7 linked regions of the Homo sapiens genome follow. The protein of the gene in region 7 interacts with the protein of the main gene of each other region in a pairwise test. Each region holds a gene or a part of one and is shown on either strand. Other genes may lie near its edges. The genes, in order: DNALI1, MECP2, CHAT, POGZ, KRTAP26-1, A2M and SPATA12.

Region 1 (3,978 bases), on a different chromosome or scaffold from region 7:
ATTTGCAATGCAGTTTTGAGCCAATAAAAATAGCTCACTTCCTGTATTACAAGCCTGTAATTCCAGCACTTTGGGAGGCCAAGGTGGGCAGATCATGTGAGGTCAGGAGTTCATGACCAGCCTGGCCAACATGGTGAAACCCCATCTCTATTCAAAATACAGAAATTTGCCGGGCGTGCTGGCACATGCCTGTAATCCCAGCTACTCAGGAGGCTGAGGCAAGAGAATCACTTCAACCCGGGAGGTAGAGGTTGCAATGAGTTGAGATGGTGCCATTGCACTCCAGCCTGGGCAACAAGAGCAAAACTCCGTCTCAAAAGAAAAAAAATTTAAAAATGCCAACTTCTAAAGAATCTTTCACCCTGGAGATTACAAGATTGCTTTTAAATGTTAGAAACATGCTAAGGTATTTGGTTTGCTCTTGTTGCTAATCCAGGAAGAACTGAGGAACTCAGGCTTATGAAAAAGGAATATGGCAGTTAAGGAAAGCAGCCTCAGAGGCTGCTAAGGAAACAGATTCATCTCTGGCTGTGAAAGTTTCTTGCTTTTCTTTGTGCAACAAGAAAAGTTCCAGTAGTGGTTAACAGAAAGCCTTCTTTATCGCAAATGGCCAGTCCTGCTGGTGTGTAGACCAAACAAGCCTGCAATGTCAAGATTGTAAGGTTTCTATCTGAGCCTAGGGAGGAGAGGGAGATCCATCCAGGGTCCTTTGGCCAGGGCCATGGGAGAAGGCCACTAAATGTCAGTAGGCCATCTTTCCAGAACAGTGATGCTCAAACTTCTGCAAACATTAGAATCACCTGAGACCTTGTTAAAGCACATTGCTGGACCCCAACCCCGAATTTTCTGATTTGGTAGATCTGGGGTGGGCCCAATAATTTGTCTTGCTTTGCCAGGTGAGGACGATGTTGATCTAGGGCCTACCTTTTGAGACCTTTGGACCAAACAGCTGGGAGTTGCAGTGCCTGTAGCATGGCCTCCTGCCCAGCTTTGTCCACCAGCCCCCTCCCTCCTATCACCTCAGCTGGATAAAAGACCACTGCTGGCATCGGACTTCGAGGAAGAGCACCTGTGCCTGGGTTCCCCGACCACATTTCTGGGGAAGGTTTCTGATTTGAAATGGTTCTTCCTCTCAAAGGGCCCTGCTGCCCTTTGACTTCTTCCCTGGTTATGCCCTGAAACAGGGCCTCAGAGGAGACAGCCATGGGATGGCACTACCACGCAAGCCACCTGGAGCCCAGCCCCCTCCAGAAAGGCTCCAACATACCAGCTTCCAGGGGAATGGAGTTCCACTTTTTGCCATATCCACCTCTTCCTTGAGGATGGGCAACTTTTTTCCAGGGAGAAGAATCCTCCACTGGAGAGCCAGGCTGAGGCGCCTCAGAGATTTGGAGTTGAGAGTAGAGACCCCCTCTGGAGCCCTCCCCTTCTCCCACCACCAAAGTCAGCTTCCTTTATCCTTTGGCAGTGCATGTGGACAAACATTTAAAAGCCATGGAAAAGGAACCGAATGCCTGGCCTGTGGGGCTGGGTCGCAGGGCAGGGGGCACCTCCACCCCACCCTGCGCGTTGATTACCTTCAGCTGCTGATTTGTTCGCTTCAGGAACTGAATCTCCTCATTGTGCTTCTTCTCCTCCACCTGCCGCCTCTCGCTCTCCCGCTTCTCAGTGGCTTCACATTTTGCCTTCTGCTCGTTCACTTGCCTCTCCAGGTCTCTCTTTTCCGTCTCCAATTCTGCGATCTGAGGAGAGAATGCCCAGTCATCCTGGGATGTCGCCAGGTGAATGGAATGGTGTGAGCCTGGGTGGAAGGGACATGGGACATGACATTGCCAGGGTATATACTGCCACCCAGTGGGAGGTCAGTGCCTGGCATGGAGCGTCTACAGCGGAAACAACTCTGCCAAGACCACCAGGCTGGCCATCATACTCAACCAGGGGTCCCTCACTGAGGTGATGCAAGTCCAGGTGTCGTGACTGTCAGCAGAGCACCTTAGGAGGTCAGAATGTAGTGCTGGAATGATAAGCATGTGGCCCTGAGGTTTACAGAAGAGATGGGACCAAGGGTCACGGTAAACCCCACTCACTTTCCTCTCCATGTCTGACTTCCCCTGCTCAGCCTGCAGTGCCTTCCTCATGCCAAACGCCACGCTGCTCTCGTACAGGGTCTGGTAGGCAGCGATGGTCATGCGGATCTCGTCCCGGACTCGCAGCAGCAGCAGCCCCCTCTCCGCACAGTTGATGGTGACCTCCCGGATCAACTCATCTTCCAATGCACACACACCATGAGATCAGACAGGGCGTGGGGAGGGGGCTTGCAGTATGTCTACTGCAAACACCCTTCCTCTTGGGAAGGACATTAGGGTGTTCTCGCTTGGAGACAAAGTGCAAGGCCTCAGAGAAGGGCCTCAGGGAGGGTGCCTTCAGTGGCCCAAAGAGCCTTGCCATGCAGTCACTCCTCTGAACTTGGCACTTGTGAGTAGCACAGTCAGCAAGACTGGGTTGGCCAGAGCAAAGGAGACAAGAGGCTCTGGTTTGTTTACAGCACTGGGTCCCCTCCCTTCCTGCCTTAGGTAAAAACTGGTTACTACTCGAAAAAACCTGACTTTTTCTGTTTAAAGATGGCAGCTGTTTTAAAGCAGCTGGGACATCCTGTGTGCCCCCTTGGCTGCACTGGTTTGAGGGAAATGGCAGGGTCTAGAGCTTGCCCATCTATCTCCCCATAAATGCTGACCTGGAGGGCAAACCATAATAACACACGGATAGGGAAGCCTGCTAGACCCTGCAGCTGCCTGAGGGTTTGGAGGTGGTTTGCAGATCGGCGTCCATAAGAGCCAATGAGACTGGGCTGGGAGACAGCCATTTGACACCAGCACTCAAGGAGGTGCATCTTAAATCTCTCGTGTCTGTGGGTTAACAACAAATCACAATATTTTTCTGGACCAAGGGCCAAATATTGATGGATGGATGGATGGATGTAAATACTGAACATTAATCTTTCTGACTAAAAAATTAGCACATGCTTATTATAGAAAATCTTTGAAAAAACAGATGGAAGTTATCGTTTTACTCCAAACATCTGCTAAGGGGTGAGGAACTCAAGTTGCCAAGAATATAGTGGTTGGCAGCTGGAGGACTTGTAGAAGAGGCGGGGCTGGTGTAGGGAAAAGAAGGAGAGATCAGACTGTTACTGTGTCTACGTTGAAAAGAAAGACACAAGAAACTCCATTTTGACCTGTACCCTGAACAATTGCTTTGCCCTAAGATGCCGTTAATCTGTAACTTTGCCCCAACCTTGAGCTCACAGAAACATGTGATGTATGGAATCAAGGTTTAAGGGATCTACGGCTGTGCAGGATGTGCCTTGTTAACAAAATGTTTACAGGCAGCATGCTTGGTAAAAGTCATCGCCATTCTCCATTCTCGATAAACCAGGGGCACAATGCACTGCAGAAAGCCGCAGGGATCTCTGCCCTGGAAAGCCAGGTATTGTCCAAGGTTTCTCCCCACGTGATAGCCTGAAATATGGCCTGGTGGGATGGGAAAGACCTGACCGTCCCTCAGCCTGACACCCGTGAAGGGTCTGTGCTGAGGAGGATTAGTAAAAGAGGAAGGCCCCTTGCCGTTGAGATAAGAGAAAGGCCTCTGTCTTCTGCCTGCCCCTGGGAACTGAATGTCTCAGTATAAAACCTGATTGTACGTTTGTTCTGAGATAGGAGAAAAAACGCCCTGTGGCGGGAGGCGAGACATGTTGGCAGCAATGCTGCTCTGTTACTCTTTACTCCACTGAGATGTCTGGGTAGAGAGAAGCATAAATCCGGCCTACGTGCACATCCAGGCATAGTACCTTCCCTTGAACTTATTCGTGACACAGATTCCTTTGCTCACGTGTTTTCTTGCTGATCTTCTCCCCACTATCACCCTGCTCTCCTGCCACATTCCTCTTGCTGAGATAGTGAAAATAGTAATCAATAAATA
Region 2 (3,978 bases), on a different chromosome or scaffold from region 7:
AAAACCCAAACCACCCTCCAGGCCTAACATCTTCCAGAAGAAACCCATTCACTGCCCATATTACATTTAGTCCACACAATTTCTGAGACAAAGCACAAAGCACTAGCCATACAACTCCCACCAGCATAAATACGTGGAGTACAAAGAATGTCCTGTCAGCTGGGCCCAGAGCACACCCCACAGCAGTAAAAGAGAATGACAATTTGAGTCACAGGATCAGGAGCAGAATCAAATTTGGGACTTGAGGCAGTGTGATGCTCTTCTGGTCTTCCGCTTCCTTCCACACCTTCTATTCTCCTTCAGCCAAACCTTGCCCTCACATAATCCCTAAGCAGGCTATTTCTTATGGATGTCTACAACAGCTTCACACTGAGGTGTCAGAAACCACTAGAGAGACAACAAAGAACGACTTAGGGTCTCAGTCGGAATCACAATGGCCGCATAAGTGAAAACTCACATTTTTGCTTAGGGGAAAAAAAATGGGAAAATTCAATTGGAACATTCTGCTTTACCACACAGAAGTTCTGAAATCCACATGTCAAAACATCAAATGCGGAGTGACCACTAATCAAAAAGACAAAACAAAACAACAACAACAACAACAACAACAAACAGCTTGAGATGTTGAGCCTGAAGGTTGAGAAATTAAGGAACCATTCATTTTTACAAAACTAAAGTCCACACAATGGTGCCAAGTAGTTCAAACTGCAGCTGATACAGCACCTGAGTGTCAGACCTAGAATGACTGGGGCCCCCAGGTTTTTACAAAGTACTCATCCTCCTCTAGAGTCCCAAGAACCAGATGTATATCTGGGTACTCTCTTTAGTTACCATGGGAGGAGTGTAGCAAGCACATGACATTAGCCATGGCCCCCGGTGTTCTGAGACAGCTTTCAGGAGGGTGTCCTTCTAGGGAACCAACCACATACCAGTTCCCATATCTGAAAATGCATTACCACTGCTCACTAATGTTGACCACTAAGCCATTTACCCCAAACCAAAGCAAACACATGCTGAAGACCGCTAAGGCAACAGCAGCAGCGCAAAAGGGCTCAGTGCAAGCGCTCTCAGCTCAGCTGACCTGCTTCAAGGTGAACTGAAGTTGCAGATCACCAGTTCCGGCTCTAATCTGACGCCCGCCCCCAGATCACGCTGTGGCGACCAAGTAACCCTACACACACTGACCTTTCAGGGCTCAGGGAAGTGACTTTTTTTTATTATATGGCACAGTTTGGCACAGTTATGTCTTTAGTCTTTGGGGTACTTTTATACTGTCCAAGAGTAGTATATTTTTTTCCTCTTTTCCTTTTTTTTTTTTTTTTAAAAAAAAAAAAAACAGATGGCCAAACCAGGACATATACTAAAAAAAAAAAAAGGAAGGTTACTTACCTGAGCCCTAACATCCCAGCTACCATGGAATCCTGTTGGAGCTGGTCTACAGAAGCAAGGTGTATTCTGGGGAGTCACATGTCACATCAAAGCAGGAACTGGTGAGTCTGTATTTTTATGGAGCCTAAAACAAAGAAAATTGTAAGTTGAAAGCCCCCATTGAGCTGCACGACCTTTTTCCCAGGGCTATTTGGGACATTTTGAAGATAAACACATAGACAAAGTACTAGGCTATTTCCCAGCTTACCTAGCTAGAAACAAAGGATAAGCTGCAAATTACTGGCACGTAACACACAGTGCTAAAATAAAGGAAAGATTCATGCTTGTTAGAATCAACACTATCACAAGCCTTGTCACCTCTAGGGGACACTTCGACACTACAAAAGCATACCATGAGTGGCGATTTCTGGCAAGTATTTCTTCTACCACGGCACACAGAAATTCTCAGGGAAGAATACATGTTCAAGAGAATACGCAACATCAAAATACCATCCCTGAAAGAACACATGGAACCTAGAGGCAGTCTCCCTTCTTTTTCAAGCAGCTGAATGAAGTTGCAATAAGCTGCTGTAACAACATCACATAAAGGGGCTTTAATCCTGAGAGAAAAAATCAGCACCAAGGGAAACCAAGTGCTCTGGGAGACCCAAAGCCATCATCCAAAACATGCAAGTCTATTTCAGGGCAATCAGTTTTAAGCCTCTCAGATCAGTCAATCTCGATGTTCAACAAACTCAGTTATTAGTTTGATAGTTTCTCTTTTTCTTTTGAACACATGTTCAAAAAAGGACTTTTGTCAGTACCTTTTTTGTCATTAAGATAACCATCATTTCCTAGTTAAAGCCTAAACTGCCCCATATGAATTAGCTAATTTCTGATACTATGCTGGCCCAAGAGTAGCACTTTTATAAGCTAAAAACGAAAGCTCAGAGCATACAACTTAGAGACTATTCACACAATTACTCATGTAATCAAACCCAGAAGAAGGGCAACACCAACCAAGTCTTTTACTGGTCTGTTGCTGCTCTACAGCTACCAGGATGGTACCTAAAATTATCTTTTGAGGTTCAGTGAGGCCTCATAATTCCCTTAAACAGTCAAGTCATAGAATACTTTGAAATCCCAGAAGTCAAGTTAATAGTATTACTCGGCTAGCTATATAATAAAAACCAAACTGGTATCCTGGCTAGGAGGCCCTGGAAAAGTCACAACTTCTCAGGGACACAAGTTTTTTTTGTTTGTAAACTGATGGTGCTGGACTAAGAATCCTTCTAGTTCTTAAAGTTTAAGATAATTAACTTAAGATTTCATGTCAAAAAGAAAAGAGCCAGAGGCTGGGTGCGGTGGCTCACGCCTGTAATCCCTGCACTTTGGGAGGCTGAAGCGGGTGGATCACGAGGTCAGGAGTTCAAGACCAGCGTGGCCAAGATGGTGAAACCCCGTCTCGACTAAAAAAAAAAAAAAAAAAAAAAAAAAATACAAAAATTAGCCAGGCGTGGTGGCAGGTGCCTGTAATCCCAGCTACTTGGGAGGCTGAGGCAGAGAACTGCTTGAGCCCGGGAGGCAGAGGTTGCAGTGAGCTGAGATCGTGCCACTGCACTCCAGCATGGGTGACAGAGTGAGACTGTCTCAAAAAAAAAAAAAAAAAAAGAAAGAAAGAAAAGAGAAAATGAGAGCAGTTTATGAAATCTAAAAAAGAAAGTTAATATATATATAAAACACCCCTAGCTCTTGGGCTAGGAAGACAAGTGCATCCTTACTAAGGCTTGGTCCTGTCAACTTCAGAGGCAATAATGAGAGCCCAGACTACAGTGTCTACAGTAACTGCAAAACAGCCACACAGCACAGCGGGAACACATTCACACGCCAGGAGACCCAGCATACATGTGCTTGAAGAAGTTATAAGACTCAGGCTTTATTCTCTAACGAAATGGTCATTCCCCCTTTGATGTGGGGGTGGGGGTGGGGATGCCCTGCCCACCCCCCAATTCCGGCTCCCACTCAGTTATCCCACATACCATACATACCATCAAAGTATTTAAGCAATGGCATGCAAAGCAAGCTTTCGACAGGTTTCTTGCAAGAGAAAGGCAGAAGAGAACAGGTAAAAGCAGAAGAGCACACAGGTAAAAGCAGAAGAGCACAACTTCTACTTAAGCCCAAAGAAGAGGGACCTGTTCACATCTTGTCCTACCCGGAATGATGCACACGCACAGGGGCTTGCCGGGACAGCAGTAGTTTCACTGGAAAGGGCTGGTATGGAGGCACCGAGGACAAGGTCCTTCCATCGCAGCGGTGATAATGCTCTACCCAAGAAAAAAAGATTGCGTCTGCCAGCCACGCAAGACTGGTCTGCAAGGATGTCACCATAGCAGAGGGCAGGGAAAACAAGCAGGTGTCCTGCCACACTCTTTGGGACTGGCCAGTCTAGGAGTGTGCTTTACCCCACGCACTGAAAACACTGGTTACTAGAAATATCAAACATTTCCTGTGATTCTCTCCTCCAAGATAACTCGGGCAGCTTGAGAACAAGCTGCTCTTAGCTAATTAAAAGATTTCTGCTGATATTAACCTTTATAAAAGATTTCA
Region 3 (4,576 bases), on a different chromosome or scaffold from region 7:
CCTTCCTTCCATTGCTCCCAGTGCCAAACTTGGGCCGCTGCACCGCGGCGCCTCCGCCCAAATCAATAAACTGTGTCTGTCCCAGGAGGCCGAGTCTCTTTACTGGTGGGGGGTGCGTGGAGGCGCGCAGGGCCAGAGCAGAGGGGAGGGTGAACTGGGTCTCCAAGTCCCAATCCAGACCTAAGCCAAACTAACACGTAGGCACCTGTAGCTGTTTTTCTACCTGGAAAAGGGGATAGGAAGGAAGCAAACCCAACAAAGGCTGTCACCCACGGTCACCAAGGAGCACCATGCTCCCCTCAGCCCAGGATAGACCCTCTTTTCCAGGCCTAGCGCAGAGCCCGGGGATGCCGCCCGGGGGAGCCTGAGGACCCGCTCCAGCTAGGCACGCCAGGCCCCGCCCTTTGAGGACACGCCCCACACCAGCCTCAGAGCTCTGAGGTGCCTGGGCTGAGCTTCCCTTCAGACCAGAATCCCGCCCCGTTGAGGCTTTGAGAAAGGAGTAGGAGCCGAGCATTCCGGCAGAGGAAGAAAAACGGCCCATCTTTTAGAGTCCGACCTCTGGAAATGTGTGTATGATGTGATGTGTGTGTTCATTAGAGAACTTGTCCTAGGAGGAGTGGGGGAGCCGTGGTTGGTGTTTGCTGTATCCCTGTCAGTCCCGAGGGTCTGAGTCTTGAAGGGAGAGATGCGAGTGTGGGATCTGGTGCCAACCCCCACTGCCACCCTGTCCTGAGTGGGAGCAGCGGCCCAGGACTGTCAGGAAAGTTTCCCATCCTTAGTCCCAGCCCTGAGAGCCTCAAGCCAGCGTTCGCGCAACACTCCATGTCCCGAAGACCGTAGTCTGATGATCGAGGCAGAGTCTTCCCATCATAGCGTGAAGAGGCGGCTGGTCAGGGTCGCCTGTGTGTTAGCTGCGCCTGTGAGGGTCTGCTCTGCTGTTGTGCGCATGTCTGTCCTCGATCTGCGAGTCGGGCTGTGTGTGCCTGGGCGGAGTCTGCCTTTGTCGGTCTGTCTGTGCTATTTCTGTGTGGGGGTCTCTATCTGGGGTGGGGGATGCTTTTGTCTGAGAGGAGAGCCTGCCTCTTGCCGCAGTCCTTAAGCATCCTCAGGTCTGCCATCAGGATTGTCCCAAGTCTGTAGCACCCCACCTCTGCTCCCCACCCCATAGTGCCAGCAGGAATGGGATGGTAACAGAAAGGGAAGTCCTGCAGTGAATATTGATCCCAGTTATTGTTTCTTATTATTATTTTGAAAGATGGTGTAGCAGGGTTTGAGACTGGCCTGGATGGTGGGGAGAGGAGGGCAGCGAGCAGAGACTTCCTCAGACCCAACCCTCTCCAGGATTCAGCAGCAGCACCCCAAGGCTGGAATAATGGGGTTGGGGAAGTGCGGTGACTGGGAAATGCTGAGCTAGGGGCAGGAGGCATGGGCGGGACAGTGTTCTGTGCCCCCTTCTAGAGCCTAAATTTGTTGCCCGAGTTCCTCCGGGAAGCGCTCCGGGTAGATTCTGGGGGCCGGGAGCTGAGATCCCTGGGCGGGGAGCTGGGGAAGGGATGGGGCTGAGGACAGCGAAGAAGAGGGGGCTTGGGGGAGGGGGGAAATGGAAGAGAGAGGAGGGAGGAGGTACAAGAGGAAGGAGAGAAGTGCGGCCAGCTTGCTTTCTCCAGTCGGGTGGCCGCGGGGACCCGGGCGACGTCGGAGGCCCTGCCGGGAACCCAGGCTGCAGCCCCCACCCCCGCGCTGCGACACGCCCCCCACCCCTTCCGGCTCACACCCCCGCCCACACTCCTGAGTGGTGCGGTGCAGCGTCGGCCGAGGCAGCAGAGCCGAGGAGAGCAGGTGAGAAGAAGGGCTGGGCTGGGCTGGCGGAGCGCGGTGCCGGGAGCAAGGGCGGCGGTCGGGGGCTCTATCCAGGGACAGCACCGGGGCCGAGAGGCCCCAGGACTCGTGGAGTCCTCTGAGTCCTGCGCAGCAGCGGCCGTCGGGGGTCAGCTAGGAAGCTGCAGGATTGCGTTGCTTCGGTGCCTGGGCTTGGGGAGGCTTAACCATCAGGGCTTCGGGACTCCAAGCGCATGTTCTCACTTCACTTGGCCCAGCATCTGCTAAGTGACCAGGTCCGCGCTTTCTGTGTCTAGTCGGAGGGTCCTTGGGTCTGACCCGACTCGCCTGAATTGCTGGTTGGCAACCGCTTCTCCCGGGAGCAGGGGGTGGGGAAGGAGGAGCAGTGGCTGGTGGCAAGTCTGAGCCAGGACATAGCCGATGACAGCCTGTGAATGACCGGCCAGACTGGGGTTGGACCTTCGGGGCAGAGCAGGCAGCCCTTGGAAAGCCAGGCTGGCAGGAGCATGGGTGGGAGGCACAAAACACAAACAGACATATATACACATACATCCTCTAGGCATCTGCCCAGGAGTGATGGAGGAAGAAGAGTTGGTAGGTGGGACCACCAGGAAACCATCCCACCCAGCTCTGCCTTCTTCAAGCTCAGGGTCCCTGAAGCCTGACTAGTGTCTCCCGAATGGGGGGGAGGGGGGGGCTCTGGGCCAGAGCAAAAGGAGGCATTGGCTGCATGGTCTGTAGGGCCTTTACCAACCTGACCTTGTCCTTGCTGTCCTCTCAAAAGACTGCCATGCTCCGGTGAATCCTCACCAGGACGCCACCTCTTTCACTTTGCAGTTGGGGGCAGCCCCTACGAACCCACAGCACTGGGAGGCGTGGGAACAAGCCTGTGGAGAGTGTCCCTGCACTGTGCCAGCAAGGGCTTTACATTCTCTGCCCAGCACTGCAAGGCAGCCCCAGGCTCCTCCATCCTTGGGCCTGGTTCATCCATCTTTCTGGACTCTCTGTTCCTGGCAACAACCCTGCCAGGTGCCCATACATGGGCGGTGCTTGCCTCTGGGTAGGGGTGGTGTTGGGTGGGGAGAGGGGTGAGGAAATTAGCTAAACCTCAGCTTTAGACTTGAGAGAATAGAGGGTGGGCTGGTGGAAAACATGAGTATGTGCCTGTGGAGGCTTAGGTTCAGGGGGATCTCAGAGGGTAGCAATTGTGACCCACAGCCTAATAATAACAGTCTTTGCCCTCTTGGCCTGGCTCACTTCTACTGTACCTTCAAAATTAATCTGCCTCTCCCCAGACTAAGGCAGGTGGCCCCTAGGGGCCCTGGCTGCCCAGCCTCCCTGCATACCTCCCTGGGCACTCCTATGGCATCTACACTGGCAGCCTGCAGACCCGAGACTGCCTAGGTCACAACGCCTCCAGCAGGCCCAGAGTCTCCCTGCCCTGGCCACAGGCCAGGCTCCCAATTAGCCCAGATGCATCCTGGAGCACAGGGCCTTAAAGGCCTCCATTCACCCACGCATGCATTCCTTTCCCTCCACCAACGGAGTGAGGGAATTCACCCTACTCCACACCAGAGATGTGGCCGGAATGCAGAGATGAAGCACTGAGCACAGTAGGTATGGTCTTACCCTTGAGAAGCTAGTGGGAAAGAGAGAGTTTGATTGGCAAAGCACTTATCTATTGGGTTCCAGGCAGGAACAAAGGCAGCACTCTGCCAGCAACCCCTGGTGGATTTGGATTGCCCCAGGGTGGTCAGCTGGCCTTGGGTGACAACAGACTCATGAGAGCAGACCCTCACTTTAGGAACCACTCTCTCCCATATGGGGGCCCAGAGAGAACACTGTGGTCAGCACGTACAGGTGGAAGTAGAGACTGGGGCCACGCCTGCAATGAGACCCCTATACACAGCTGTCAGGCTCTGGCCTCCTCATGGGGCTGGGGTGGGGGTCTGTTGGCGGGAGGTGGAGGGTTTGTGACAGGCCTATGTGGCTGCTGTGTTGATGCTTCCCACTTCTTGGTCCCCAGGTCCACACCTCTGCATCCCTGCACCAGGACTCACCAAGACGCCCATCCTGGAAAAGGTCCCCCGTAAGATGGCAGCAAAAACTCCCAGCAGTGAGGAGTCTGTGAGTGACTTTTGGAGCCCTCTCTCAACCCTGCTTTCCCCACCTACATGCCCTTGCTTCTAGAACAGTCCTGAGTGGGACTGGCCCCCAGCATTTGCCTGGCCCCAGCCCTGCCCTCTACTGGCACAAGGCCCAGGCTACAGCTCCACCCCCAGCTTGCTGAGGATCCCAGAAGGGCCTGGAGGGGCTGAGACGGGCCTCAGGGTGCCAAGGAAATGCTAAGAGCTTAACTTCCAAATCCCCTGGCCAGGCTAGGCCCTATCTTTCCTTCCAGGGCCTCTCTTCATCCCAGCTTCCACTTCTGATAGCTTTGAGCCCAGTGATTTTGCCTTAGGGTGGGGCTGAATTCCTACTCCAAGCCCTGCAAGTCCCAGCTCCAGCTGCTATCACTAGTTCAGCCTTGGAGCCTTAGGCACCATGTTCTCCACTGGCCTGAGACAATGCCATCCTCCCTGGGCAGGCATCCTCCCTCCCGCCCCAGCCAGCCTTCGGGTGGCAGAGCAACACACCTGACTTCAGGTGGTTGCATGTGTTTCCCCTCTCCCACACTTGTCTTTTTGCCACTCCTCTTCCCCCTTCCCCCTTCCCCTTTCCCCCAGCCCTCATT
Region 4 (3,978 bases), on a different chromosome or scaffold from region 7:
AATCTTAGGCACTATTCTTAACTACTGCATTGCTACCTTCACCTAATCCATCTCTACATCATAAATATCACAAATCTTCTGAATATCTCTCAACTCTACCCTCTTTTTATTTCAAAAGCCAATAGCCACTATCATCTCTCACCTAAACTACTGAAAAAGGCCTTCTAGCTAGTTTCCCTAACTGTAGTCTCAATCTCCTTTAATCCATTCTCTGCAGTGCAGGCAGTATAAAGCCTTAACTAAAGCTGAACACATCACTCCAGGGCTTAAAACCCCTTTAGTGGCTTCCCAGTGAATTCTTTTCATGGCTTAAAAGATCCTCCATGATCTGTCCCTGCCTAACTTCCAACCCCTCTGTCTCTTACACCCTACACTGAATCTCTCTCAATTTCTTGAACCTCCACAATTTTGCTTTGTGCCTTGGGCACACTGTTCTTCGTCTTATTTCATCTGGCTCATTCTTATTCATCCCTCAGGTATTGAACAACACTTCTTTCTGGAAGCCTTACTAGGCACCCAGAATAGCTATGTGATTTTCTATATCCTATAATTTCCCCAACACAGTACTCTTCATGTTTTATTGTATTGTTTGCCTTGTTTACTACTAAATCTCTAGCATCTAGACTAGTACATGGCACATTAAGTGAATTCAATAAATTTCTGCAAACATATGCATATTATAATCTCTGCCCAAATTATTTGCCTAGCTCAGCCCTGGCCCCAGCATCCATGTTTAAAAAAAAAAAAAACAAGAGAATATGGGAATTGCTTGGTGCCTAGTACCTGGTGCCTCATGTAATGCTGTTGGAATGCATTGCCATTTTTGAAGACCTTCAGGCAATAAGGGCAGAGCAGATGCCGGGTATCCTCATGGATCATCCGAAAATGGACATCTACCTCAGAGTAGAGTGAGGAGCGATATTGACACACCTGAGTCACATAGGAGGGAAAATAAGGCTAAGAATGAAGTGAACAACTGAGAGGCCTTAAAAAAAAAGGTAGCAACAAAAATTTTTAAATTAAAAAAAAAAAGTTTTCTCAAATGCATAGAAATCAAATTATTTTCCTGACTTTGTAATGCTGGGCTATGTTTGTGATAGGTTTAGCTATTACTTTAAAAATAGGAAGGGACAGAAAGTCTAAGAATAATCCATGTTCTCTAACTAAGAAAAATAAAGCCTTTTCTGTCAATTTCCAAAGGGCACGTTCAGGAGACAGACACTCCCTTAGAATATGCACATGTTCCCGGCTAGTCTACTTGTGGACATGTTCTTTTATGTTTTTCTCCTGCATGGAAACCCTGAAGATAAACTGTGTTTACTATTTCTTCTGTACCTACTCAGAGTTCCTAAACTGAGTGTATGCAGTAGGTGGTCAACAATATTCATTAGTAAATTCTTTGTATTCTTCCTGAGGGCAAAACTGCTAAAACTCCCTGGAGAAAAAGGCAATACCTGGCAAACATAAGGCATCTCTCCAGGCTTATGAGTATCCTTCATATGCTGGAGAAATAGTGGCTCACTTTCAAACGCCCATTCACAGATCTTGCACTTGGCTGTAAGAAGAAAAGTAATCAATAAATCCACTTGAAAATAAGACAAAAGTCCTGCTGACTCACAATCTTTATTTTCTCTGCCTCCTTTATTTTGATTTTCAACAATCAGTAAATCATAGGTCCCTTCTGTTCTTTCTTTAAATGGCTCCACCTTAACATATATGTTGCTGATAATCTTATGTACGTAGCTCAGACTTCTTACCAAAGCTTCATTCTAGATTTTATCTATAAGACATTTTAAATTGGTTATTCTATCGTCAACTCTAACCTAATTCAGCATCCTCCTGTCTTACCACTGTTTCCCTTTTTCCTTTCCCCATTTCTTCCTGAGCTCAAAATTTAGGCACTATCTCGGATTCCAAACCCTGCATTCTGTCACCATTATTTCAAACTGCATGTAGGAACTGTCACTTCTCTATACTTATAATAAGGCAAAAACTTGGTACTAGCCCATATGATTTCCCACTGCTAATCAGCTGGCCTCCAATACCTCCTACTCTCTTTGAAATTGTCCATTTTGTCAAGCTTATGAGAAAAAATTTTGACAAAATTTTATGACACAAATGAACAATTTTGTCAAACTTCTGAGACAATTTTTGGTAATTTCATGTTGGCCAGGTTGGTCTCGAACTCCTGACCTCAGGTGATCTACCTGTCCCAGCCTCCCAAAGTGCTGGGATTATAGGTGTGAGCCACCGTGCCTGGGCTTTTTTTTTTTTTTTTTTTTTTAAGAGACAGAATCTCACTGTTGCTCAGGCTGGAGCATGATCATAGCTCACCGCAGCCTCCTGAGTAGCTAGGACTATCCTTTGAGCTCAAGCGAGCCTCCTGTTTCAGCCTCCCAAGTAGCTAGGACTACAGTGGTGCACCACCATGCCCAAGTAATTAAAAAAAATTTTTTTTTGTAGGGACAGGGTCTCGCCATGTTGCCCAGGCTGGTCGGAAACTCCTGGCCTCAAGCAATCCTTTTGTCAATCCACTTCAGTCTCCCAAAGTGCTAGAATTACAGGTGTGAGCCAGTGCACCGGCCAATTTTGGTAAGACTTTTAACTGCTACATATTTTTAATTATACAGTATGGCAAAAAGAGAGAGATTATTTACATTTTTGTCACTTTAATGGAATTAGTTTCAAGTTTTTGCAAATATGAAAACTGGAAGCTTAAAGCCTTGGGCATTTACTGGACAATGTCTAACCTCCCCCCGCCCCCAGCCCCCTACACCCCAGCCAAAGAAATATGAATAAAGTTGAAATAATTCTTTTTTCTTTTTTTAACTACCGAGAACCCTGGATTTTTGTTTTGAGACAGAGTCTCGTTCTGTCTCGCACGCTAGAGCGCAGTGGCTCAATCATGGCTCACTGCAACCCTGACCTCCCAAGCTCAAGCAATCCTCCCATCTCAGCCTCCCAAAGTACCAGAATTACAGGTATGAGCCACTGTGCCTAGCCAAGTAATTTTTTAAAGTAAAACAAACAAACAAAAGCCAGGGGTTCTTAATCTGGGGTCTATGGAACAGGCCTCTAGGAATCCAGGCTTTCTCTGAAATTATTTGCAAAAGAGTAAAATGTAGATTTTTCTAGGAAGAGGATTCAAACATTTCATATTTATTCTCAAAGAGGTCTGCAACTCCATTTAGAAACACTGTCTACAGGTACATTAGGTGCTATGAGGACATGGATAAATAAGAAATTCTGCATAAAGGAATGAGGAAAAGCTATAACAACATATAAAAGCTGAATTGTCAAAGAATGGGGCTCAGCCAGCCAGAGAGAGGACCAAGAGAAAAGCAGGAGGAAAGGCAAGTAGGTATGAAAGTTAACCACATGTTTGGGAAACAGTTAACTAGCAACATAACGATATTATCTCTTTTCCACTCACCCCCCGATTTGTTTACCTCTCTCATTTTTCTCTTCTAGAACACCTTTAAGCAATATTTTGTCCAGGCCTTTCTTAGTCTATGTTTTCCCTGGGCAATCTCATTCACTCTTTCTCCTATAACCTATTTATCAGCTCTATTTTCACAGCTGTCATGCAACATCAATAATAAAAACACTTATTAAGCAATTTCTAATGTACAAGCATCAGGTTAAGATTTACATGTGTTGGCTGGGCACGGTGGCTCATGCCTGTAATCCCAACACTTTGGGAGGCCAAGGCAGGCGGATCACCTGAGGTTGGGAGTTCAAGACAAGCCTGACCAACATGGAGAAACCCTGTCTCTACTAAAAATACAAAATCAGCCGGGCACAGTAATGCATGTCTGTAGTCCCAGCTACTTGGGAGGCTGAGGCAAGAGAATCGCTTGAAGCTGGGAGGCAGAGGCTGCGGTGAGCCAAGATGGCGCCACTACACTCCAGCCTGGGCAACAAGAGCGAAACTCCCTCAAAAAAAAGAAAAAAAAGATTTACATTGTGTTATCTCAA
Region 5 (3,371 bases), on a different chromosome or scaffold from region 7:
GTTTTCAAAACAGAGCTGAAGAACATACCGCTCTCGATGATGACCTATGCAAAAGGATGGATGACTGTAAAAAGCATATGTTTGGGGACCCATGTGTAAGTCAGGATCGCAGGAGCTTAGTTTTATTATTTGCAATATTGAGCAAAAGAGCATGAAGCCAGAGAGGTATGGGGGAGAAAGACAGTGAGGGAACTAGGTGTCATGCTAAGAGGTTTGAATATTTATCTTATGGGAATAGATTATAGGAAGCCATCAAAGGCGTAAGCAGAAACTTGGTTAGGTTTGCAATTAGAAAGAACATTCTGGTGGAAGTGTGTTCATGGGGTAGAGAGATAAGAGACATCACTCCTAATTTTTCCTTTTCAAAACAGCTTTCCCAAGGACTTTTTGGGTCTCTCAAGTACATAGGGTCAGAAGTCTAAAAAGCAGCTTAAGGAATAAACCATCAAACAATCCCTCTACTGTCAGGTAAGAATATATGGTTGAGTATCACTTGTCCAGCTCAGTCATCTTGCAAGCAATTGACGTTGGTTATTTCTGTGTTGAAATTAAGTCATGAAACACAAAGCGCTGAACCAGATTCTTAATTTGGACTTAATCGCATTTATTATAGTGCAAAACAAATACATTCTTCCCAGACCAGAGCAACATTGAATAGCATTGTAAACTAATTTTTTTGATGTCAAGGAAAGATGAAAACAAGATAAAACATGCGAGAGAAGCAGCTTGCATTAGATCAGGCACAGTAAAACTAAGAAACATCAGTTGCTACTAGCAAAGAAGCAAAAGTCCATGGAGTTTGAATTTTTGTTGTGGATGCTCAGAGTGATTATTCACTGGAACAAAGAAGCTGCTGGTTTCACAGTCCAGAGCAAGATGGACGACACGTGCTGAACACATGGGTCAGAGGTTGGCAACCACTGAACAGAGGCCCCAGAGGTCTGAGGCTGCTGGACACAACGTGAAGACTTTGAGGACGATAGGCCAAGCAACTCGAGGGTTGGCATCCAGAAGTGAGGAGGTTTTGGGGCTGGCAACTCTTGGACAAGCAGAATTGGGGGCGATAGGCATTGGGCACACAGTCTCCTATGGGCTGGTAACTATTGAGCAGCGGCCTCAGTGGACGACAGCCGCTGGACACATACCTCTGTGGTCTACAGGATACTGGAAGGCAGGAACTGGAGAAGAAAGAAGCAGGAAGAAAACTGCTTCCTTGGCAAGGCCTGGGCACGTAGTAAGCAGTGGAAGAACCGCAAGAGGTTTCAAGATTGCCGGTCTCACAGTGGACCGGCTGGCAGCTGGTTGGTTCACCGCAGGTCTCTTGGCAGTTGTCTGTGACCCAGGTATGGTCTTGAGAGCTAGTGGGTAAGTAGAGGACATCTCCACAGCTCACGCTGGTAGGGCAGAGGTCGATGGAGGTGAGAGGAATATGGCGGGAGGTTCTGAGAGATCCTGAGTTGGAGTTTCCCGAGCAGTAGTTGGGGCAAGACATAGTGAGGTTGTGAGAGCAGGCTGAAGTTGAGGCAAAGAAGTGAGTGTCTGAAGTTTGTTCTGCCCTTCCTTAGCTTGACCCTTTATTTATCCCTAGAAGGTGGTGCTTCTGCGTGCAGACTCTTCCTCTTGTTGTATGAAGATGCATCAGAACTCTTTATTATAGCCAAGGAAGTGAGGCTTCCACCCTCCATAAAACTGGATGCTCCTTGCAATGCCATCCATTGATTACGTCTATCTATAAACCAATGCGACTGAGTTTTAATAGGATCTATCCTTCTTAAATTATCCAAACAAAACAGACACATTTTAAAGCCTATGTGCTTATTCCAATTATAACCACCATTGCACAAACATTCTTAAGATTCCTCTCTTAGAATTGTCTTTGAAAGTTGTAGCAACTTCTTTGAAACAGTGAGAACTTACATCTTTTTGAAGAAAAATTCTATTCTTCTTGGAAATTGCCAGAAGTGAGTAACTTGGAACAAGTATAAGAGAAAATGAAAATCCTTGCAAACTATATGACAGAAATATGGACAATTTCAATATGTTTTGCTTGGTTAGAATTTATTTTTCTAAGTTGTGATTTGCTTTATTTCAGAATTCTATTCAGACTTGACTTTCTACCAAAATATCTTTATTCAAAAATATGTGCTCATTTTAGTCATTTCAATAAATAAATAAGCTGAGTGAAGCTGAAACCTTGGCTTATGTTTAAGATATTCTTGAATATAGATAATGAAGTTGGGCCAAGTTAAAATTATGTATCCTACTGTGAACAAAAGCAGAGAAGTAGACCTCTTAAAGAAAGTCAGGCATCTTGACATTTTTCATGATTATTTCAAGGTTATGTATTGCATGGTTTCTCATATTCCAACTGAAAAAATATTGTTCTTGGTTAAAAAATACACTGATTATGACATGAATTTATTTTGCTTTCTACATTGGCCTTGATGTCAATTTCCAAAAAGGAGCTTCTAAACTGCTTTACATAGGGAAAAGCATCAGGATAAATTATTGTTTTCCTAAGTTTTAGTACTTTAAAGGTCATTTGAGAATATGTATTTCTGGTAAAATTGTTTTAAAAAATGTATGATTTTAGTTAGTTTCAACTATCCCTCTATATTTTTCTCATACTGACATACCCAGTGGCTCCAGTAGCTATTTTAATGGGATTTTAAATTATCTGCTGGCTCTAAGTTCCAATTCCTTTTGGCTAGTCAATTTAAATCATAACACTTTCTTCTATTTTGGTGTTTGAGGGACATACTTGTGCTTATCCAGTCTCCCTCTGTCCTGGAGGAGTGAAATCTCTGAAACAGAAAGTTGGTTTCTCAATGAGACAACACTAGACTATTTTACTACTGGGGGAGAAATATAAAAATAAAATGGTATAATCCCGGAGGTCCTGTACTAACATGTTGAATTTATCTCAGTATTTTAGGTCAGACGATTTGTACCTGATGTATTTGAGAAAGCCCCACTCACTCCAACCCCCAACCCCAGGCCCTCATCACCTAATACTGTTTGTATAACCGGATACTTTGTATACTTCGGACATCACCTAATACTCTGTGTATACAGCTGCTAGAGTCTTCTTGTAAAATCCTGGTTGCATCAGCTGAATGGCGTTAGTAATAGGTACAGTCATATTTAGCTGAATGCTTATGAAATTGTATGTTGATCCTTTTTATGTCTGCTCTTCTCTAATATAAACAAGAGCCCAACATCTGTATCATTAGTACATCAATACGCTTGTGTGTATGTGTGGATAGATGTATATACTACATGTTCTATGTATACATGGATGGTTTTCCATGAAGAGAAGGGGTGTGGAATAAGAGGAAACTGGCATTCATGGAATGCCTACTCTGAAGAAC
Region 6 (3,978 bases), on a different chromosome or scaffold from region 7:
CAGAGTGTTCCTCATGTACAATGTATAACCACTCTGCTTGACTTCGTGGAGGGTTGGCATTGTGTCAATCCTGAAGCTTTTTGTTCCCTACACTTCTCTTTCATTCTCAAGAATCACTTGAGCCAGTAGAATTATTTCTAATTATTCTTATAAATTACTAGTCATGAAATGCCATTTTTATCTTTGATACACGGCAAGGTGCTCATTAATTGTGGTGGGACATGCATGGGTCTAGGTGCTCTTGCATTTTTCTTTTGGCTCCTTAGTAGTCTTAAAAACTTGCTTACATATTTCCCAACGTTTCATCATAGAAGAAGGGAATAACATACTCTGAACTGTGTAATTGGTAAGAGGCACTGCTAGGAGAAGTTTGAGAGTTTTGTATAAGGAATCAAGTGATTCTGCTTCTTAGTGTGACTCTGCCACTACCTTGCTGAATGTCTCTGGGGAATTTGTTTAACCCTTTTGGCCCTAATGTTCACATGTGTAAAACAAATGATAACAATAGTAACTTCTAGTTTTACATGTTGAAGATTTTATGATCTAAAACACACACCTTGTTGGCCAGACAATTTTCAACATCATATTTTGCAGAATCCCCAATCACGTCCCCGGTAGGTAAAACAGCATAGATGAGCAACCGAGCGACAGGAGCAATGTCTGACTTCACAGGGATTGAGATGGAAAAATGGCCCTTCACTGGGGCACAAAGAGAATGAGAGGAAGCCATCATAGGTTAATGACTATTTCCATTAGTAGATGTAACAGACATAATAAACAGTAGATGTAACAAATGGATGATTACCTCTAAGGACTCTAGCTTTAGAAAAAAACCCTATCAAAGCCCTCTCTCCTCTCATAAATCATATACTCTGTTGATTTTTCACCAGCTTTAAGCTTCAGCTCACCCACCTAATGTTCTGATGCTAGTTAAGGGTATGAAGACATCCAATTCACTACCATTTGATCTAGGCCTCATACTAGAAGAGGGAAATAGAACCTGAAGTTATGAGATGTAAGAGTAAGAGTTCAACACATTGTATTCATGCTACATGCTCTTTAACCTTCTATGAGCCAATATTTGGTTCTTTCTCCATAAGAGGAACACCATGCTCCTTCAGAAGTTATTTTTTGATGCCTATGTAGATTCTTTAGAGGTTGCATTAAGTTTCCTTCAGTCTGCTATGGTGCTTCTGTGTTGCTACAAGAACTAATGAGAGAGTAGATTACTGATACTTTTCTAGCAAGTTATCTTTTAGAGTCTACTAGACTAGGAGCAACCTTCAAAGGTTTATATTATGACATATTTGCTCATGGCAAGAGTCCGCTTCAGTCGGTAGAAGTACCCAATTTAATGCTTCATAAATCATAACTATCTTGAAAGGGAAAAAAGATATTTATAATAATATAAATGACATAAATGACTCAGCACAAGACCTGGTATATACAACATACCTTGAAATCGTACATTTTCTCCACCCCATTCTCTAACACAATTCTCATTTTGAGAAGAGGTTCAAGAATATTTATGGTTTAAAAATCTGGAATAAGCATAGATTATACACAACAATATTTTATGTATTTTATTTTTCCCCCTTTGTTCTTATTTATTTATTTATTTATTTATTTACTTTTATAGAGATGGGGTCTCACTATGTTGACCAGGCTGGTCTCAAACTCCTGACCTCAAGAGATCCTCCCATCCCGTTCTCCCAAAGTACTGGGATTACAGGCGTAAGCCATCATAGCTGGCCCACACCAATATTTTAAATAACGCAAAGAAAATAGGCTGAAAAAAAAGACAACACATATTTGATAAAGGGTGAGAAAAAAACCATTATTGTTTTCCCTCCCTCAACTTTCTTTTAATTAATATTAGATGGAAATGGTCTCTCGTTACTTGAAAGTATTCCTGATATTCCCAGCTCAGGAATGGAAAACCAAACATCATATCTTCTCACTCAGAAGTAGGAGCTAAGCTATTAGGAAGTGGCAGCTAAGCTATTAGGAAGTGGGAGCTAAGTTATGAGGATGCAAAGGCATAAGAATGATACAATGGACTTTGTGGATTCAGGGGGAAGGGTGGAAGGGGGTGAGGGATAAAAGACTGCAAATTGGGTACAATGTATACTGCTCGGGTGATGGGTGCACCAAAATCTCGGAAATCACTACCAAAGAATTTATTCATTCATGTGACCAAACACCACCTGTTCCCCCAAAAACCTATGGAAAAAAAGGGAAAGTATTCTGATACTTCCGTGGTGTAAGGCTGAATGGGTCAGAATGGGGCAGCAATGCAGAGATGATGGAAATACTCACTGTCTTCCTGCTTCACAAGCAGTCCATGAGTCCCAGTTCGGACAATGCCTCCCTTTGCCATTATCTGCAAAAAAGGAAATAAAAAGAAATTAAATGTGCCAGAGAGAACACGCTTCAGTCTCACTTCAATATACTTGTTTTATTGAGTCCCTGCCGGCAATAATTCACCTCAAGAGAAATCAAACTTTCAAAAGGAACATGGATAAGAAGTTGAAGTAATGACATCTAAAGAGCTTCATGATTACTTGCTCCACAGAGAGCTTTTGTCTACAGTGAAGTCAACGCAGTAACCTCCCTTCTCACCAGATAATAGAAGGAGAGCTTCTTCAGCCCCAGCAGGGTGCCTCCATTCAGAATATAATGTGCCTGGACTGTCTGAGTATGGCCACAGGGTAGTTCATGAGACATGGGCTCAAGGTGGACAAAGCTCTTGCTTGGGGAGAACACAAGATAAGCAGTGTGATGTGCCTCTTCGTGTTCTTCTGACACCCACTGGTAGCCGTAACAGGGACTACGATCCTTGTAATTGACCTAATGAATTAGAAAAATTATATTATTTTTAGATTATACGTCATAAAGATTAATGTTCTCACAAAACTACGTAAGTTTACTGTCCTACCTTAACTAGTAGCTAGAAATCTTTTGTTCCACAATGAAAAGTGGGAGAAGGACCCCTGATTTTGTTTCTCTGCTTCAAATGTAGGCATGCTTTGTGACTTTACACTGCAGAGCCTCCTGGGATTGAGATTTATATTTCTTAAGAGCATAAAAGGAGGCATCCTTTGCTCTGATTAGCTTGCTTGAAATTTCTTTGACTGCTTTACCTGTGCAATTAGAGACACTGGAGCTATGAAACTTCATTGAGGAGAGTAAATAATCTCTAGAAATGGAAGAACTGTGCTTTCAGAAAGCAGCTGCCTCTTTTAGGGTGGATTTTGAATGGGTATTATGAATAAATAAAATATTGTAACCTTAGGGGTCTGAGAAGACATTGGTAGAAAGCATTGGTTTAAGAGCTGAGCTGATGAATTAGCTGAAGTCTACCTCTTCTGGGCTATCTTAGGCTGATTGCTATTATTATTATTTTTTTGAGACAGGGTTTTGCTCTGGCGCCCATGCTGGAGTACAGTGGCACAATCTTGGCTCAGTGCAATCTCTGCCTCTGGGGCTCAAGTGATCCTCCCAGTCAGCCTCCTGAGTTGCTAGGACTACAGGTGCATGCCACCCCACCCAGCTAATTTTTTGTATATTTTGTAGAGACAGGGTTTCACCACGTTGCCTAGGCTCGTCTCGATCTCCTGGCCTCACGCAATCCACCCACCTCAGCCTCCCAAAGTGCTGGGATTACAGGCGTGAGCTACCGTGCCTGGCCTAGGCTGACTATTTTTAATGCTCCCTGCAATCTGGATTCTAATACCTCAGAGGCCCTATTTGGGTTATATTTCCAACTTTTCTTCCTGTAGAAGTTATTCCTTAGCTCCTTTCAGGCTTCCTCTACCTTCATCCCCAGCTCCCAATAGCACTAGTGAATCCTTGAGCAAAACATTTTGTTCATATCTTAATGTATATTTTGGTGACAACACATATATGATCACCCCAAACAGGGAACAGGTAGAAATAATAATTTCATTGTCAAGACTAGCACAGTGCTGGCACGTG
Region 7 (3,978 bases):
CCTGGGTTCACGCCATTCTCCCGCCTCAGCCTCCCGAGTAACTGGGAGTACAGGCGCCCGCCACCACGCCCGGCTAATTTTGTTTTTGTATTTTTAGAAGAGACAGGGTTTCACCGTGTTAGCCAGGATAGTCTCGATCTCCTGACCTTGTGATCCACCCGCCTTGGCCTCCCAAAGTACTGGGATTACAGGCGTGAGCCACCGCGCCTGGCCGACAAATGTTATTCTTTCTGGGTTGCCATATTTTGTGGTTTTTAAAAAATATATTTTTATTCATTTATCTGGTGACTTGAAATTTCATGCAAGTACAGGTCCTTACAGACAATTTCTATTGGAAAATCACTTATTTTGGGTGTGTATTAGGGTTTGGAGAGAAACAGAACCAACAGGATGTGTGTCAATCAATCGCTCATCTATCTATTGAGAGGTTGATTTTTAGGAATTGGCTCATGTGATTGTGGAGGCCAGGTGAGTCAAAAATCAGCAAGGTAGACTGGCAGGCCGGAGACCCAGGGAAGAGTTGCAGTGAGCCCAAAGGCTCTCTGGGTAGAATTCTTCCTGCTCTGGGAGGTCGGTCTTTTTCTATTAAGGCTTATAGCTGATTGGATAAAGCCCACCACATCATGGAGAATAATCTGCTTTACTCTAAGTCCACTGATTTAAATGTTAATCTCATCTAAAAAATACCTTCACAGAAATGTCTAGAATGTTTGACCAAATAGCTGGTTACCATGGTCTAGCCAAGTTGACACATAAAATTAATCATCACAGTGGGTAAAATACTGTTTGAGGTTGTTCAGAAGAAAGGAAAAAGGCAAAAGCCTGGGCGCGGTGGCTCACGCCAATAGTCCCAGCACTTTGGGAGGCCGAGGCGGATGGATCACTTGAGGTCAGGAGTTCAAGACCAGCCTAGCCAACATGGTGAAACCCCGTCTCTACTAAAAATACAAAAATTAAGCCAGGCATGGTGGCGGGTGCCTGCAATCCCAGCTACTTGGGAGGCTGAGGCAGGTGAATCGCTTGAACCTGGGAGGCGGAGGTTGCGGTGAGCCAAGATCATGCCACTGTACCTGGGTGACAGAGTCAGACTCTGTTTCAGAAAAAAAAAAAAAGAAAGAAAGGAAAAGTGTAATGGTTGGAAGTGGAAGTGTGCTGTTGGTACAGATAGGAGAACATTTCGGAAAGAATTCCCTCCCCTTTGATTGACTGCAAAATAAGTCCCTCCCTTGTTCTCTTGCAATTACAGGTGGACCAGATGGGTGGGCAGATTGGCAGTGGGGGTGCAGAGTTTCTTGTTCTGATTGAAAGGATTTTTTCTTACATTTTAGGGTTTTTTTTTTTTGTTTTGGAGACAGAGTCTCACTGTGTTGCCCTCCTGGCCTCAAGTGATCCTCCTGCCTCAGCCTCCTGAGTAGCTGGGATTACAGATGTGAATTACTGTGCCCAGCTCTTAGATTTCATTTTAAGACTGAAGACCTGAGAGTTCATGGGCCTAAGTAAAAGGTGCCATTTATCTGCAACAAATTGGTGCATGCTCCGTAGATCTAGCTGTAGGGGGCTGTGTGTGCTAATGCAGCATTTGTGACTCAGCCGTAATGAGGATGACCTTGCCTCTCCTGTTCCGCAGGCTACCACCTAGCTGTGGTGGGTCACTGGCCACAGAAACTGTAGGTATCTGGGGCTGCCTGGGTGGGAACTCAGCCTGTATGAGAACATGGTATTTGGAAGACATTAAACATTTATTATAGCTTTTATTTTTATTGAGGTATAATTAACATACCACAAAATTGACCCTTTTCAAGTACCCAGTCTGTTTTTTAGCACATGCATACGGTAGTGCAGATATCACCACTAGTTCCAGAATATTTATCATCCTAAAATACAGTTTTTCTTTTGCAAGTAATTTCTTTTTTTTTTGTTTTGTGATGGAGTCCTGCTCTGTTGCCCAGGCTGGAGTGCAGTGACATAATCTCAGCTTACTGCAACCTCTGCCTCCTGGGCTCAAGTGATTCTCCTGCCTCATCCTCCTTAGTAGCTGGGACTACAGGTGCACACCATCACACCCGGCTAATTTTGTATTTTTCGTAGAGATAGGGTTTCACCATGTTGGCCAGGCTGGTGTCGAACTCCTGACCTCAAGTTATCTGCCCGCCTCGGCCTCCCGAAGTGCTGGGATTACAGGCGTGAGGCGTGAGCCACTGCGCCCGGCCTTTTGCAAGTAATTTCAACATTTAAGACCATGGCCTACTGGATTGGTCCCATCAGCAAATAAACATGCAGTTATTTCTCCCAACTTAAAAACAGCAGAACCCTCTCTCCACCCTACTTCTCCCTACAGTTATACACCCATTTCTCTTCAGTTTAGAGCAAAACTTTTTGAAATAATTTTCTGGACTTACTAATTTTTTGCCTTCTATTGTGTCTCAAAAAATTGTGATAAAACACACATAACGTAAAATTTACTGTGTTGACTATTTTTAAGTTTTCAGGTCAGTAGTGTTGCGTATACTGATATTATTGTGCAACCAATCTGCAGAGCTTTTCATCTTGTGACACTGAAACACTGTATCCATTAAACAGCAACTCCCATTCCCCCCTGCCCCTAGTCCCTGGAGACCAGCATTCTACTTTCTGTCTCTGAATTTGACTGTTCTAGATACCTCATATAAGTGGAATCATGCCATATTTGTCCTTTTGTGACTGGCTTATTTCACTCAGCATAATGTGCTCAAGGTTCACCCATGTTGTAACATGTGTCAGAATTTCCTTCCTTTGGGCTGGGTATGGTGGCTCATGCCTGTAATCCCAGCACCGAGGAGGCGGATGTTGAGCCCAGGGGTTCAAAACCAGCCTTGGCAACATGGTGATACCCTGTCTACAAAAAATACAGCAATTTGCTGGGCGTGGTGGCATGCACCTGTAATCTCAGCTACTTGGGGGCTGAGATGGGAGGATCACTTGAGTCAGGGAAGTTGAGGCTGCAGTGAGCCGTGATCTTGCCGCTGCATCCCAGCCTGGATAACAGAGGGAAACCCTGTCTCCAAAAAAAGAAAAAAAAAGAAAGAAAAAAAAAAGAAAGAATTTCCTTCTTGGTTTTTGGTTTTCTGTTTTGTTTTTTGAGACGGGGCCTCACTCTGTCACTGATTGCTGCAGTGGCACAATCTCAGCTCACTGCAACCTCTACCCCCCAGGCTCAAGCAATCCTCTGACCTCAGCTTCCGGGTTAGCTGGGACTACAGGCATGCACCACTATGCCCAATTAATTTTTTTGTATTTTTGGTAGAGACAGGGTTTTGCCATGTTGCCCAGGCTGGTCTCGAGCCCCTGAGCTCAGGCAGTCCCCCTCCCTGGGCCTCCCAAAGTGCTGGGATTACAGGCGTGAGCCAGCACAGCTGGCATGGAATTTCCCTCCTTTTTAAGGCAGAATATTATTCAATTCTATGCATTTGCCACATTTTGTTCTACCATTCATCTGTCATGGACACTGAGTTGCTTCCACCTTTTGTCTATTGTGAATGATGCTGCTATCCCATTCTCTTTTGAGCCCCTCATTTCAGGCAGGCTTGGCTTCCACTCCCCTCTCCCCAGATATCTCTTACCAAGGTCTACAGTGAGTGCCTGGTTGCTCATCCCAATGGCCTGTTCTCTGTTGCCATCCTTCCTGACTACCAGCAGCGTGTGATGGAGTTGGTCACTTTCTCTTCCTCGAAGCCTTGTCTCACCTGGCTTCTAGGATGCCCGACTCTCCTGATCCTCTTCCCACATCTCTGTTAAGGAGCACCCCAACCTCCTGGTTGCTCAGGCCCAAAGCCTGGGGCGTCATCTTTGACTTTTGTATCTCTCTTCTCTTCACTTGTCAAAAGACTCTACTTGTAGAGTGGCCACTGCTCCCCTCCCGCTCCTACCACCCTCCAGGTCATTCTCCCCTCTCACCTGAATGACTGCGGCCTCCAAGCCTCTGCCTTTACCTCCTTTCAG

Evidence for each region.
Region 1: the proteins of SPATA12 (region 7) and DNALI1 interact in binary tests that used the Homo sapiens proteins (3 or more experiments, as listed by UniProt).
Region 2: the proteins of SPATA12 (region 7) and MECP2 interact in binary tests that used the Homo sapiens proteins (3 or more experiments, as listed by UniProt).
Region 3: the proteins of SPATA12 (region 7) and CHAT interact in binary tests that used the Homo sapiens proteins (3 or more experiments, as listed by UniProt).
Region 4: the proteins of SPATA12 (region 7) and POGZ interact in binary tests that used the Homo sapiens proteins (3 or more experiments, as listed by UniProt).
Region 5: the proteins of SPATA12 (region 7) and KRTAP26-1 interact in binary tests that used the Homo sapiens proteins (3 or more experiments, as listed by UniProt).
Region 6: the proteins of SPATA12 (region 7) and A2M interact in binary tests that used the Homo sapiens proteins (3 or more experiments, as listed by UniProt).

What each region holds. Positions count from the first base shown.
Region 1 is NC_000001.11:37,559,845-37,563,822, reverse strand, and holds part of DNALI1 (axonemal dynein light intermediate polypeptide 1), read right to left. Parts: intron 2,267-3,978; coding exon 2,088-2,266; intron 1,743-2,087; coding exon 1,578-1,742; intron 1-1,577. UniProt on the Homo sapiens protein: Involved in sperm flagellum assembly.
Region 2 is NC_000023.11:154,090,795-154,094,772, forward strand, and holds part of MECP2 (methyl-CpG-binding protein 2), read right to left. Parts: exon of another isoform or gene 3,584-3,978; intron 2,756-3,583; exon of another isoform or gene 1,416-2,755; coding exon of another isoform or gene 1,390-1,415; intron 1-1,389. UniProt on the Homo sapiens protein: Chromosomal protein that binds to methylated DNA. It can bind specifically to a single methyl-CpG pair. It is not influenced by sequences flanking the methyl-CpGs.
Region 3 is NC_000010.11:49,612,634-49,617,209, forward strand, and holds the start of CHAT (choline O-acetyltransferase), read left to right. Parts: upstream 1-1,403; 5' UTR 1,404-1,556; coding exon 1,557-1,842; intron 1,843-3,389; exon of another isoform or gene 3,390-3,419; coding exon of another isoform or gene 3,420-3,459; intron 3,460-3,868; coding exon 3,869-3,969; intron 3,970-4,576. UniProt on the Homo sapiens protein: Catalyzes the reversible synthesis of acetylcholine (ACh) from acetyl CoA and choline at cholinergic synapses.
Region 4 is NC_000001.11:151,410,842-151,414,819, forward strand, and holds part of POGZ (pogo transposable element with ZNF domain), read right to left. Parts: intron 1,556-3,978; coding exon 1,455-1,555; intron 931-1,454; coding exon 784-930; intron 1-783. UniProt on the Homo sapiens protein: Plays a role in mitotic cell cycle progression and is involved in kinetochore assembly and mitotic sister chromatid cohesion.
Region 5 is NC_000021.9:30,318,544-30,321,914, forward strand, and holds KRTAP26-1 (keratin-associated protein 26-1), read right to left. Parts: upstream 1,773-3,371; 5' UTR 1,493-1,772; coding exon 860-1,492; 3' UTR 581-859; downstream 1-580. UniProt on the Homo sapiens protein: In the hair cortex, hair keratin intermediate filaments are embedded in an interfilamentous matrix, consisting of hair keratin-associated proteins (KRTAP), which are essential for the formation of a rigid and resistant hair shaft through their extensive disulfide bond cross-linking with abundant cysteine residues of hair keratins.
Region 6 is NC_000012.12:9,098,825-9,102,802, forward strand, and holds part of A2M (alpha-2-macroglobulin isoform a precursor), read right to left. Parts: intron 2,851-3,978; coding exon 2,623-2,850; intron 2,384-2,622; coding exon 2,320-2,383; intron 700-2,319; coding exon 557-699; intron 1-556. UniProt on the Homo sapiens protein: Is able to inhibit all four classes of proteinases by a unique 'trapping' mechanism. This protein has a peptide stretch, called the 'bait region' which contains specific cleavage sites for different proteinases.
Region 7 is NC_000003.12:57,063,405-57,067,382, reverse strand, and holds part of SPATA12 (spermatogenesis-associated protein 12), read right to left. Parts: intron 1-3,978.